Homo sapiens: one gene and its partner. The protein of the gene in region 1 interacts with the protein of each later gene in a pairwise test. Each region holds a gene or a part of one and is shown on either strand. Other genes may lie near its edges. The genes, in order: GCH1 and GIT2.

What was found.
Region 2: the proteins of GCH1 (region 1) and GIT2 interact in a two-hybrid assay, tested with the Homo sapiens proteins (one large-scale study listed by BioGRID and IntAct).

The regions. Positions count from the first base shown.
Region 1 is NC_000014.9:54,896,046-54,899,863, reverse strand, and holds part of GCH1 (GTP cyclohydrolase 1), read left to right. Parts: intron 1-3,818. UniProt on the Homo sapiens protein: Positively regulates nitric oxide synthesis in umbilical vein endothelial cells (HUVECs). May be involved in dopamine synthesis. May modify pain sensitivity and persistence.
Region 2 is NC_000012.12:109,944,288-109,948,105, reverse strand, and holds part of GIT2 (ARF GTPase-activating protein GIT2), read left to right. Parts: exon of another isoform or gene 1-601; coding exon 602-850; intron 851-2,756; coding exon 2,757-2,846; intron 2,847-3,818. UniProt on the Homo sapiens protein: GTPase-activating protein for ADP ribosylation factor family members, including ARF1.

The DNA of each region.
Region 1 (3,818 bases):
TGGATGTAGAGACACTGCAAGATTAGTAGTTGTCAGGGACTGGCGAGAAGAGGGGGATGGGTAGTGATTGTTTAATGAGTATGGAGCTTCCTTTGGAGCTTCCTTTTGGAGTCATGAAAATGTTCTGGAACTAGAGAGTGGTGATAGTTGCACAATATTGTGAATGCCACTGGATTGTAACTTCAAGATGGCTAAAAATGACCAATTTTATATATATTTTACCACAATATAAAGACAGGTTTTGTGGCGTGCCTGCAGTCCCAGCTACTAGGGAGGCTGAGGCAGGAGGATAGTTGTTGCTCAGGAGAACAGCCTGGGCAACGTGGGGAGACCCTGTTTCAGAAAAGAAAAGTCCATGGAGCGGACCATTTAAGATTATTATTATTATGTTTATTTTCATGTTTTTGAGACAGGGTTTGGCTCTGCTGCCTAGGCTGGAGTGCAGTGGCGCAATCTCGGCTCACTGCAGTCTCACTCTGCTGGACTCAAGTGATCCCACCTCAGCCTCCTGAATAGCTGGAACTACAGGCTTGTGCCACCATGCCCTGCTAATTTTTGTATTTTTGATAGAGACGGGTTTTTGCCATGTTGCCCGGGCTGGTCTTGAACTCCTGAGCTCAAGGGATCTGCCTGCCTTGGCTTCCCAGAGTGCTAGGATTACAGGTGTGAGCCACCATACCCAGCCCATTTAAGATTATTATAAGCCATTAATTGAATATAATCATGCATTACATTATGATGTTTCCTTCAATGATGGACCACATGTATGAAGGTGGTTTATAAGATTACAATGGAGCTGAAAAATTCACATTGTCTGGTGATGTCTTGGTGATCCTGACCTGTGTAGGCCTAGAGTAATGTGTTTGTTTGTGTCTTAGTTTTTTCCTCTCGTCTCCCCCATGTCTTAGTTTTTAACAAAATTTAAAAATTAAGAAAATTGGGCCAGGCATGGTGGCTCACACCTGTAATCCCAGCACTTTGGGAGGCCAAGGTGGGCGGATTACTTGAGGTTAGGAGTTAGAAAGAGACCAGCCTGGCCAACATGTTGAAACCCCATCTCTACTAAACATGTAAAAATTAGCCAGATGTGGTGGCGCATACCTGTAGTCACAGCTACTTGGAAGGCTGAGGCAGGAGAATCACTTGAACCCAGAAGGTGGAGGTTGCAGTGAGCCGAGATTGCACCAATGCACTGCAGCCTGGTTGACAGAGTGAGACTCCGTCTCAACAGTAAATAAATAAATAAAAATAAAAATTAAAATTAAAAATAGAAAAAGGTATAGAACAAGGATATAAAATATTTTTGCACAGCTGTACAATGTGTTTTTGTTTTAAGCTGTGTTATTACAAAAGAGTCAAAGTTTTAAATACATTAAGCTGAAATTATTGAAGAAAAAATATGTTTAGTGTAGCCCAAGTGTACAGTGTTTATAAAGTTTACAGTAGTGTACAGTAATGTCCTAGGCCTTCACATTCACTTACCATGCATTCACTGACTCACCCAGAGCAACTTCCAATCCTGCAAGCTCCTTTCATGGTAAGTGCCCTACACAGACATACCATCTTAAGTCTTTTCTACTATATTTTTACTGTACCTTTTCTATGTTTAGATGTCTTTCTAAAATTATTATTATTTGTATTTTAAATATAGAGGCAGGGTCTCACTGTTTTGCCCAGGCTGGTCTCGAACTCCTGGGCTCAAGTGATCCTCTCCTCTTGGTCTCCCAAAGTGCTGGGATTACAGGCATGAGCTATCCCACCTGGCCTACATATCTTTAAATACACAAATACCATTGTGTTACAGTTGCCTGCAGCATTCATTACAGTAACATGCCATACAGGTTTGTAGCCTAGGAATAATAGGCTCTACCGTGTAGCCTAGGTGTGTAATAGGCTATCTCATCTAGGTTTGTGTTAGCACTCTCTTCCTTCAGTGTTTGCGATATGAAACTGCATTTCTCAGGTGTTTCTCAGAATGTATCCCCATTGTTAAGCAATGCATGACCGTACTTTTTAATGGGTTAAAAGCTTTACGTTGGATGGTCTTGGTTCATCTTCCAGTTTTCAAGTAAACATTTCTCTTATCCCCATGACAAGGCAACTGAGGCAGAGAGGTTGACACAAGTAGTAGAGCTGGTATTTGAATCCAGAGAGTCTGACTGCAGAATTCTTAGCCACTTCCTTATACTGCTACAGAGAGAACTGAATCAGTGTACCCTATCTGTATATTTCAAACTGTGAATTGGGTCAACAGCATTAAAAAAAAAAGTGGAGTAGCCGGGCGCGGTGGCTCACGCCTGTAATCCCAGCACTTTGGGAGGCCGAGGCGGGTGGATCACCTGAGGTTGGGAGTTCGAGACCAACCTGACTAACATGGAGAAACCCCTTCTCTACTAAAAATACAAAAATTAGCCAGGTGTGGTGGTGCATGCCTGTAATCCCAGCTACTTGGGAGGCTGAAGCAGGAGAATTGCTTGAACCCAGGAGGCGGAAATTGCAGTGAGCCAAGATTGCACCATTGCACTCCAGCCTGGGCAACAAGAGCGAAACTCAGTCTCAGAAAAAAAAAGTGAGTAGAGGTTGGGCACGGGGGCTCAAGTCTGTAATCCCAGCACTTTGGGAGGCTGAGGTGGGCAAATAACGAGGTCAAGAGATCAAGAACCCCGTCTCTACTAAAAATACAAAAATTAGCTGGGTGTGGTGGTGCGTGCCTGTAGTCCCAGCTACTTGGGAGGCTGAGGCAGGAGAATCACTTGAACCCGGGAGGCGGAGGTTGCAGTGAGCCGAGATTGTGCCACTGCACTCCAGCCTGGCGACAGAGCAAGACTCCATCTCAAAAAAAAAAAAAAAAAACAAAAAGTGGAGTAGAATGGATAAGATCAGTCTATCACATATAGTAAGGACAAGTGTTTTGAGAAACTTCTTCTTTTGTTTTTTTTTTTTTTGAGATGAAGTCTCACTCTGTAGCCCAGGCTGGAGTGCAGTGGCGCGATCTGGGCTCACTGCAAGCTCGGTCTCCCGGTTCACACCATTCTCCTGCCTCAGCCTCCTGAGTAGCTGGGATTACAGGCGCCCGCTACCACACCCGGCTAATTTTTTTTTTTTGTATTTTTTTAGTAGAGATGGGGTTTCACCGTGTTAGCCAGGATGGTCTTGATCTCCTGACTTTGTGATCCGCCCGCCTCGGCCTCCCAAAGTGCTGGGATTACAGGCGTGAGCCACCGCTCCCGGCCGAGAAACTTCTATGTAGGTTTTATAGGCATAATTGTGTGTGTGTGCACTGGCTCCAGATGTAAAATGCATTTCTTACTGTAGGTTGTAGTCAAAAGTTTGAAAGCCTGTATCTAGGGGATCTGTTTAAGGATTTAATATTTCTTTTTTTTTTTTAAAGAGATATATAATTAAAGAGAAGACAGAGTAGTGAGAACAAGGATGATGCTGAACTTAAAGGAATGAACCTGAAATGTGGTGGGGTCTTGGACCAACCTGGATGGCAGGGAGAAGGAAGGATACTGGTGGGAGATAGGAGTGAGTGGGAACCCACATCTTTAGGTCCATAAACGCTTCTGCACAATCCCTTTTATTTCTTTAGAGAGCATGAGTCAAGTGGCCACTATATATTGTTTTTGGATAAGAACATACTTCTCTGAAGGTCACTTTTCTGTGCTTGTAAACAGGATACAGGACTTTATATCTTTTATATATCTGTATTCTATATATTAACTCCTGGTTAGTAATGTTGACTTAAGTGTTGTAAAATTTAAAATAAGTTGGTATTTTACATTCTTCAAAATCCATTTTTCCTCCCAGTGCCTCTT
Region 2 (3,818 bases), on another chromosome or scaffold:
TGGAATATCAAGAGTATTATGTAATAAAAACTTGTTGATCATAATTTTTCTTGTTGGCTTTTTGGAAAGCAATAGGCGATCTGATTTTTCACAAGCTGAACTTCTGTCTTTCTTGCTTTGCAAAGCAACCCTAGTCATCTTTGTGCTGCTTCCATGGTGTCTGCTGTCATTTTTGGCCTTTACAAATTGCTCAGGGCTCATTTGAAAAGCAAGTTACCTAAATGATGTTTTAATGATCTCGAACTCTTGCTTGAAACAGCCTTAGTAATAATCCAGTGTACAGCTTGCCTGCAAACATTTCCCAGCCCCACCATGACAAATTTTAAAGTGGTTAGACATTTTGTTTTGAGGAAGTCCAAACCACAACTTTTCCACATTCAGAAATGAAGCTATTTAATTTGCTTACGTGATGAAGGGAGTTGATTGTGTTTCACCCAATCCAGAAGAAAGGGTCCTTGTTTGTATTGGCTTTTTACTTTCAGCCCGGCTAGCTGTTACTGTCCTTATTGTTTAAAACTGGTAGTTGTATTCATTTACTTGGTGTTTGCTTTTTCTGCTTGCTGTAAAAAAACACAGTCCCACTGCCAAACATTTCTTTCAGCTTCAAACACTCCAGAGTGAAAATTCGAACCTCAGGAAACAGGCCACAACCAATGTATATCAGGTGCAAACTGGTTCTGAGTACACAGACACTTCCAACCACTCTTCCTTAAAGAGACGTCCGTCTGCCCGGGGCAGTAGGCCCATGTCCATGTACGAGACCGGATCAGGTCAGAAACCATATCTCCCAATGGGAGAAGCGAGCCGCCCCGAAGAGAGCAGGATGAGACTCCAGCCCTTCCCCGCGCACGTAAGTAACACCACTGGCGCTTCTGCTGTTCACTCTATGCAGCCTGTCTACTCTGTTCCCTCTTCTGAACCTACAGGTCCCCACAGCTCTGCTTTGCCAAATTGGACTAAGAGAGTTACCATTGTGTTTGCTGTATTAACATGTCCACAGATGCTTGCGATATTCCCACAAGCACACAGGGCCATGGGCTGATGGTTTCCTAACCAAGTTGGGGATTCTGGCTCTTGCCCGAACTGCTGCTTTTTTCTCCCCCACATCCATGATTATTTCTCAACCAGCCAGTGTTGGAACTTTTTTTGGTAAAGCTTCCTTCCTTCTCTACTTCCAAAAACAAAAATAAATCATAAAGTTCACTCTCAGAAGGAAGTGTTGCCTTCTTGGAGCTAGACAGGGATGTGCCCCTTTAAGTACTGGAGCCCTTAGAATCCAAGACGTCTTTTCAGCTCCTCCTCAAGCAGGTGGCCTTGAGTCTGTGGCCCAGGTACCCAGGCAAGGCTGGAAGGCTCCAGGCTTCCGCAGCCTCTCCATGTGTGCTCAGTGTGCCTGCTAGGTTCGCTTCTGCATCCTGCTCCTCCCACCGTGGTGGGGGAAGTGTGGCTTTGTTGTCTCAGAAAAGGAAATGTAATACTCTACATCAGTCTTAGAAGCGCTGAATTCCAGAGATTGTGTTCTGCAGCAGGGTTCTTACAATCTTATTTTGCATTGGGATACATACTGTGTTATAAGGTTTTCAAATATATTTCTTCTGGATTACTTTATTATAAAAATATGTGTTTTGCCAAGATGTTACATTTAAACTTTTTCATGGGATGCTTTTTCAGAGAGTAGTATTTGTCTTTTTGAGTGTCAAAGTTTATTATTTCTTCAGTCAAATTTTATGGGAGTTTCCAAAAAAATTCTCAAGGTAGATGCAAAGCAAGGACATGGTTTCGTGAATTAAACCCTAGTTTAATTTTGTCAATTTTCAGTGTGGTAAAATTACAATATTGTTTTACTATAATTGGGAGTCTGTTATCTCAGATTCTTTTTAAGATATTTGGGTTTAACATTCTAAGGCAATTGATTTGATACATTTGATGTAATGGGAATGCCACTGAACTAAGTTAAGAATCTTTTTTTTTTGAGATGGAGTCTCGCTCTGTCACCCAGGCTGGAGTGCAGTGGTGTGATCTCAGCTCACTGCAACCTTTACCTCCTGGGTTCAAGCAGTTCTCCTGCCTCAGCCTCCTGAGTAGCTGGGACTACAGGCACATGGTCCTGTGCCTGGCTAATTTTTTTGTTTTAGTAGAGACGGGGTTTCATCATGTTGCCCAGGCTGGTCTCAAACTCCTGAGCTCAGGCAATCCGCCCGCCTCAGCCTCCCAAAGTGCTAGGATTACAGGTGTGAGCTACCATGCCCACCCTAAGTTAAGAATCTTATTTTTGTATAGCTGAAGACAAAATTTAGGAAAAGCAACTTTGTTATTTTTCAGTGTACTTTCTTATTTTAGAAAAAATTAGAATATAAAGATATATCAGGAAGGCACTGTAATTGTACTAAAAATTAGATTGATAGTGTATAGCAACTTAGAATCATTTTTATAGTTTCTCATTTCACATCAGTCCTGATTGAAAAACAAATATGCATTTCATAGTATCCATTAAAAAATTATTGACAAGTTTGACAAATTATGTTAGGTATTTCCCTTATGGAAAAGCAGCCTTATTAAATTCAGAGTAATTTCCAGGAGGTGTTTCACCAAGGGTTTAAGCATCTCTGGGGTCCTGTCACTGGTGGCCACTGAGATTGCAGCACTCACGTCACATAATGTGTGGTGTTCCAGGATTCTTTTACTGAAGCTGGCAAGGTGGTAGGTTTTTGGTTTGTTTTGTATTTTCCCGAGTGTGTTTCTCTTTCCCATTCCAGATCGGGAGGAGTGCACTTGTGACCTCCTCTTCATCTCTGCCTTCCTTCCCCTCCACACTTTCCTGGTCGAGGGACGAAAGCGCCCGAAGGGTTAAGTACATTCTGAATGGTCTGCTCTCTGGAGGAGGGGCCGTGCTCCTGGGCGCTTTGTGCTTGGGCTCTGGCCCTCCTGTCCCTGCTAACTGCCCTTCCGTCCTGCATGAGGCAGCACTTCCTCCTGGTTTCTCACAGTGCATCAGGCTCACACTCGTCCACATGCACGCTCACCCATCGAGGGCGCCTCCCTTTCTCTAACCCCATACTGCTCATGTTCACGTCATATTTAACAAAGTTTGCAAATCACCCTACAGCATTTATTCTGAGCAAACTGTTTTTTTAAACAACGAGAAAATTAGCTGGCTGCTGGTTAGATATTATAATAGGCCAAATTTGTTCAATTTGTTCAGGGCTACAGTTGTCAGATTGAAACTGCTGTATGTGGACTCGCTGAAGTACTAAAATGTCATGCCTTTTTTTTTTTTTTTAACCTGTGACACATTTTATGTCAGCACCACAAGTGCTGACAAACCAAGGTTTACAAGTCCCTGCATCTTGAATCAGAATTGTAACACCTTGTGGCATTGGAGCTATGCAAGCAGCTGTTAACCTAAAGCTGTTCACTTGTACGGGTTGGTTAAACCTCACCTACTGGTGTATAATTTATGGTCTCAATAGCAGTGCATGATTCAGGTAAGCCTCTTTTAGAGTAGTCAGGCAGTAAGTATTAAGCACCTCCTCCATACACAGCGTTTGGGTAAGTCAATGAAAGGGTCCTAAGGACTTAGCTGGCACAGCCCCTGCTCCCAAAGGCACTGTCAATTAAAAAATACTTTCATGCATAAAGAGTGGTACATGACCACAACCTGGGAAAGCCGTGGAAAGGGCATAGGCTTTGAAATCCACGTCCCAGTTCTGGCTCCATCTCTTTTTTAATGGAAGGGTAATGTAAGGTAAGAGGAGGAAGGTGGCTGTGGGTAAGGGACCACCTTTACAGGCAAGGTGGGGTTTGCACTGGGCCTTTGC